Linked DNA regions of Homo sapiens: region 2 is linked to region 1. Evidence: fine-mapped QTL for protein levels in blood plasma. Region 1 holds a variant in brackets. A gene starts in the other region. All regions are shown on their forward strands. Region 1 overlaps MFSD12 (major facilitator superfamily domain containing 12). Region 2 holds the start of CD83 (CD83 molecule).

What was found. PIP is the posterior inclusion probability: the model's chance that the variant is causal. Protein levels are from antibody-based Olink assays in UK Biobank. Linkage for the fine-mapping came from a reference panel and not from the study's own genotypes, which makes the PIPs less certain.
Region 2: CD83 starts here. The variant in region 1 is fine-mapped to the plasma level of the CD83 protein (UK Biobank, PIP above 0.99).

What each region holds. Positions count from the first base shown.
Region 1 is chr19:3,545,005-3,547,504 of GRCh38, forward strand. MFSD12 (major facilitator superfamily domain containing 12) reads right to left here. Exons shown (of 10, transcript NM_174983.5): 5 at 2,451-2,500; 6 at 2,268-2,360; 7 at 1,251-1,421; 8 at 1,070-1,164. Among named protein-coding and RNA genes, the nearest start is that of TEKTIP1, 7.1 kb to the left of the region's middle. The variant C/T (reference allele first, on the strand shown) is at 1,262.
Region 2 is chr6:14,116,533-14,119,487 of GRCh38, forward strand. It overlaps CD83 (CD83 molecule), which reads left to right and starts at 1,240. Exons shown (of 5, transcript NM_004233.4): 1 at 1,240-1,316; 2 at 1,418-1,533. The coding sequence starts at 1,280. RefSeq lists silencers at 566-860, 988-1,107 and cis regulatory regions at 603-1,511, 851-1,667, 851-1,506, 1,672-2,172, 1,743-2,569 and 1 more.

The DNA of each region.
Region 1 (2,500 bases):
CTGTGCCTCCCCTCACCCCCGACAGCGGCTCCGTCCTGTCCAATCCAGGAGCTGGGGGCCCTGCCACTCCCTCCCTCCTGTCCCACACCCAACAGCTCGGCCAGTCCTGTGGGCCCTGCTTCCAGCATCCATGCCAAATCCACCATGTCTCCCCTTCCCTGTCTCCTCATGGTCCAGCCCCAGCATGGCCCGCCTGCACCCGCCCCGGTCCCAGGCTGCAACTTCTCCCCCAGCAGCTGTCCTCCCGGCAGCAACCACCAGAGGGCGTCTGTGAGCGCCTGGGTCAGGGCCTGTCCCTCTTCTGCCCACAGCTCTCTGTGAGTCCCACTGTCCTCAGGGTCAAATCCCCTAAGTCCTCCCCATGGCCCACCAGGCCCTGCACGACCTGCCCTCCCCTCCTCCCTCTACTCCAGCCACACAGGCCTCCTCCCTGTTCTTCCAACACAACATGCCAGGTGTGGTCCTGCCCCAGGGCTTTGGCACTACTTGTCCCTCCCCATTGGCCTGGAATGCTCTGACATCCTGCAGGTGTCAGGGCCACGTCACCTCCTCCAAGAAGCCCTCCCTGGCTTCCTGCCCTGGCTGTCCAGGTTTCTCTGAGCGTTCACCTTTACACACCACCCACGCCGGTACCAACCACATGTTCACCTCTGTGACTATTAACACGGCTGGCTCTGCCCCAGGCCCAGACCGGCTGTGGTTTCCAGGCCCTGGGCCTCTACAGGCGTGAATGCTGTGATGCTGTGGTCTAGAACCATCCATGTCTGAACCCTGAGTTCTGTGGGTCTGGGTTACACGGACTCGGGGCTCCCTTCCAGCTGGGCCCACCCCCGATATATTTCTGTACGGTGTCTTCAGCACTGCACACATGGACCCAACGTTTGTTGAGTGAATAAACGAAGTGCTCAGTGGAAGAAAGGAAAGGTCTCCCCTGCCTATGACTCCCATTGGGGCAGGTGTCTTTGGTCCACAGCTGGATGCCCAGACCCAGAACACTGCTGGACACACAGCAGGCGCTTAATCCCCTCTTACTGAACAAAAGAATGAATGAACGAACAGCGGCACTCACGGGCAAGGGTGCAGGCTCTGGATGGCCATGACTGCCAGCCCATTGGCCACCTTATCCAAGAAGCTCATGGAGCCGTACACGAACGCTCCGCTGTTCTGTGGAGACACAGGCGAGGTGGTCAGCGTGCACCCCGAGATCTAGGACCCGGCCTCCCCCACCCCAGCCTGGCTACCAGCCCTACCGTGTGGGGAC[C/T]GATGAGGTCGGCCGTCATGGCCAGCGAGGTGACGAGGATGGTGGCACAGCCAGCACCCAGCAGCACAGCCGCTGCGTACACGGCCACACCCAGTCCCTCCGCCAGCGCCACCCAGGCGGCAAAGGCCAGGATCACCAGGAGGCCTGAGAAGTAGGTCATCTGCAGGGACAGCCCCGGGGTCAGGCCCACACCACTGGGTGCCCCCAAGCCTGGCGCTTCAATCCGCCACCCCTACCCCCAACCCCAGCAAACAAGGCATGAGCTGGATGGTCCCTAAGGAGCCCTGGCTCTGGCCCTGGACACAACACCGAGGCTCTGCAGATCCTCCATGCCAGAGCTGTGCTCTCTGTCCACGCCGTAGCGGCTGGAGACGTGTGGCTATTCTGCCTGAGCGCAGGTCAGTTACAACGAAAGCAAACGACGGACTCGGCTCAGTCCCCACGGCCACATTTCAAGCCCTCAGTAGCTGCACAGGGTGGACAGAAAGCGCCAGAGCTCCATGGCTGCGAGTGTATAAACTCGAGACACAGAGAAGCCAGGATCCTAGAATTCCTTGTTCCCAGATCTGGGGCTTTTTTTTTCTGGAGACAAGAGTCTCGCTGTGTCGCCCAGGCTGGAGTGCAGTGGTGTGATCTCATCTCACTGCAAGCTCCGCCTCCCGGGTTCACGCCATTCTCCTGCCTCAGCCTCCCGAATAGCTGGGACTACAGGCACCCGCCACCAACGCCCGGCTAATTTTGTTTTTGTATCTTTAGTAGAGACGGGGTTTCACCGTGTTAGCCAGGATGGTCTCGATCTCCTGACCTCGTGATCCGCCCGCCTCGGCCTCCCAAAGTGCTGGGATTACAGGCGTGAGCCACCGTGCCCGGCCTAGATCTGGGGCTTCTACAAGGCGGGAACTCGGAGGCCTGAGAGCATCCGAGGATGGAACCCGGAGCGGGTGGGATCTCGGCTGCAGGGCACCCCATCCTCCGCCCCAGCTGTCCCCGGTCCCCGCCCACTCACGTTCCTCCCAATGCACTTGTTGATGGGCTTCATGAGGAAGGAGGACAAGAAGCCGCTGAGGTACATCACCAGGGGAATGGTCGCGATGAACTTCTGCGGAGGCAGAGCCAGGCATGCCGTGTCAGTCATGGCTCGCCAGGCTGGGGCCGTCCCATCCCAGCGTCCCCGCCCCAATCTGCTCACCTTGGGCAGGTGGAGCGAGTAGGTGAGGTACATGGCCATGTAGGTCTGGG
Region 2 (2,955 bases), not on the chromosome of region 1:
AGATAGAAAGGTTGGATAACAGTTTGTGTTGGCAAACAGGCACTCTCTTTGCAGATGGGAATATAGATTGAAGACACCTCCTTGCAGGTAATTTTTTGGCAATATTTGACAAAATTGGAAACTCCCCTTCACCTAGCACAATTTCCTTGAGGTATTTATTCTAAGAAAATAAGCAATTTTAGAGCAAAGATTTATCTACACTGAAGTTTCCCATAGCAATCACAGTATTGTTTCTAATATTAGTAATACAAAAAGAAACAACCTGTATGTCTAACACTAATCGATTCTAATTTATGGTGCAACTGAACAATGGACCAAAATGATGCTGTTGGAAGTTTTTAATGATGTGGAACCGCTTGCAAATTATTAAGCTAAAAGAAAGTAGGTTACAAGATAGCAGGAAGAATAAACCATTAAAAATACCAATCTGTGCACTGACAAATGTTATAAATATTTTACGTTATGTTATGTTATAAACATTTTATAATATAAAAAAATGTTAACTGAAGTTACTTCCTGGATGAATTACAGGTGATTTCATTGTCTTCTAGAATTTTCTTTTCCAAAAATGTTGTGTATGCGTGTAATTATTATTTTAATAGGAGACACTCTCCTTTGGTGATATAATTTAAACAGGACGGTACTGACTGATAACCTCCCGGGGAAGGCAGGGAGCCAAGTACTACAGACTTGTATGTTTCCATGGAAATCTAACGCGCCTTTGATTATCACAGATTCTGGAGAAGAGTGAGGACTTGGGTTCACCAGTGCGTTCCCAAGGACAGGCTGGGCTTCTGAGGAAGTTGCCCACCCTCTCGGAATCTGGTTTGGCCTCCGTAAAATGGGCAGATCCCGCTCGGATGGCCCGGTTCCCGGCTTCCTTTTGCGGGTCAACGGCAGCGTCACGCGCGCGAGCGCGGTCTGCAAAGCCCCCAGCGCTGGGCGTCACGCGGGGATTGCTGTCGCCGCTGCCAGCCGCAGCAGCGACGCGAACTCGGGGCGCCCGGCCCGGGCGCGCGGGGGCGGGGACGCGCACGCGGCGAGGGCGGCGGGTGCGACGGGGGCGGGGACGGGGGCGGGGACGGGGGCGAAGGGGGCGGGGACGGGGGCGCCCCGGCCTAAGCGGGACTAGGAGGGCGCGCCACCCGCTTCCGCTGCCCGCCGGGGAATCCCCCGGGCTGGCGCGCAGGGAAGTTCCCGAACGCGCGGGCATAAAAGGGCAGCCGGCGCCCGCGCGCCACAGCTCTGCAGCTCGTGGCAGCGGCGCAGCGCTCCAGCCATGTCGCGCGGCCTCCAGCTTCTGCTCCTGAGCTGCGGTAGGGCTCGCGAGCGCCTGTCTCGCCTGTCGCCCCCCGCCCCTCCACGACACCCCCTCCCGTCGGTCGCTTGCTCACGACGCGCTCTCTCTTTCTTGTAGCCTACAGCCTGGCTCCCGCGACGCCGGAGGTGAAGGTGGCTTGCTCCGAAGATGTGGACTTGCCCTGCACCGCCCCCTGGGATCCGCAGGTTCCCTACACGGTCTCCTGGGTCAAGGTAGGTGCTGCGATACCCACGGGCTGGGGTTTGGTGGGCTCATTTGAAGACAGCAGGAACCATCTCCCCTAGGCTGGCGACCCTCTGTGGCTGCCAGGTGGGGGCGAGGGGCGTCTCCCGCAGCTGAACTTGGAGTACCCAGCCTCCCGTCGCGCCTCCCCCACCCCATCCGCATCCAGGTACAGGGCCGAATTAGGTTTTGCTCTCCGCAGACCTCAATCCCCTTCCTGTCACTGAAGGTGGCCTGAGATGAATGATCCACTTAAGATGTTTTGGAAGGGCAGAGACTCTCATTTGGATTAATTCTGGAGGCCACCTGTGGTTGTGGGCCAGCAGGTCAGGAAGAAAGCAACAGGGACCTAGATTTGGGCATTGGACAGGGGGAATGTCTCCAGACTTCTGATTTCTTGTGTTTTGTGACTGTGATGCCCATGATACATGGGAGGGGGAGGGGGCAATTTGAAAGGAAAGGCTAAGACACAGAAGTGACTTAGGCCATTTCATCCATGGTAGTTATCAGTGGTCATCTCCTTTGTGGGATACCCTTGGCTTCCTCCCCTAGCCCTCCTCCTCCTTCCTCTGGCAGCCTTGAGAGCATCAGGTGGATGCATGAGCCGGAGCCCGCATGTGTAAGAACAGGCCTTGCTGCTCCTACTGTAAGTGGACTGAGTGACAAGGAGGCTTTTTCAAGGTTTCCTCTTGACTGAAACATTCTCAGATTCTAAGATGGCAATGATGGTGTCATTCCAAAGCCAAGCAGCTACTGTTTGATATCACTGGTCCTTCTTTAAGTCAGGCCACTGCTACCACAGCACCTCCATTTTAACCCAAATGAATATGATATTACAACCTTACTCTGTAGCTCTCACTGATTTGCTGTCTTACCACGGGGGCAAATCTCTGCACTTGTAGCTTTCCCCAAAATGCAGGGCGTTCTTCTGCCCACCATAAAAGATACTATAAGAAACTGTACGTCTTTGGCCACTTAACAGTACAAGGCATCATTGCGGTGATCTCTTTGTGTGTGTGTCTCCTAACTGGATGGTCAGTTCCCTGGGGGGCAGTGGCTGTATCCATACTTCTGTGTATTCTTCACGGCACCTAATTTTTGCCCTATAAATTGCAAAGGTGCTCTGTGAATTCAGCCCAGCACTTCATGAGTTATGCATGACGGGGATGGTGCTGCTGCCTCAGAGCATTGTATTGTGTATAAAAGTAAGGTGTTAAATATTCCTACTTCATTGGTACCTTACTTACTGTGGGATCAGAGAACACAACAATTCCGAAATTGTTCTCATAGTCAAAACAATAGTATTTTTAAAAATATTGTAAAAACAATTTTTGAATGCTCACCACGTGCCAAGCTCCAAGGTAAATATTTACATACATTATCCATTTCCATCCATCGGAAGAATGGACTTA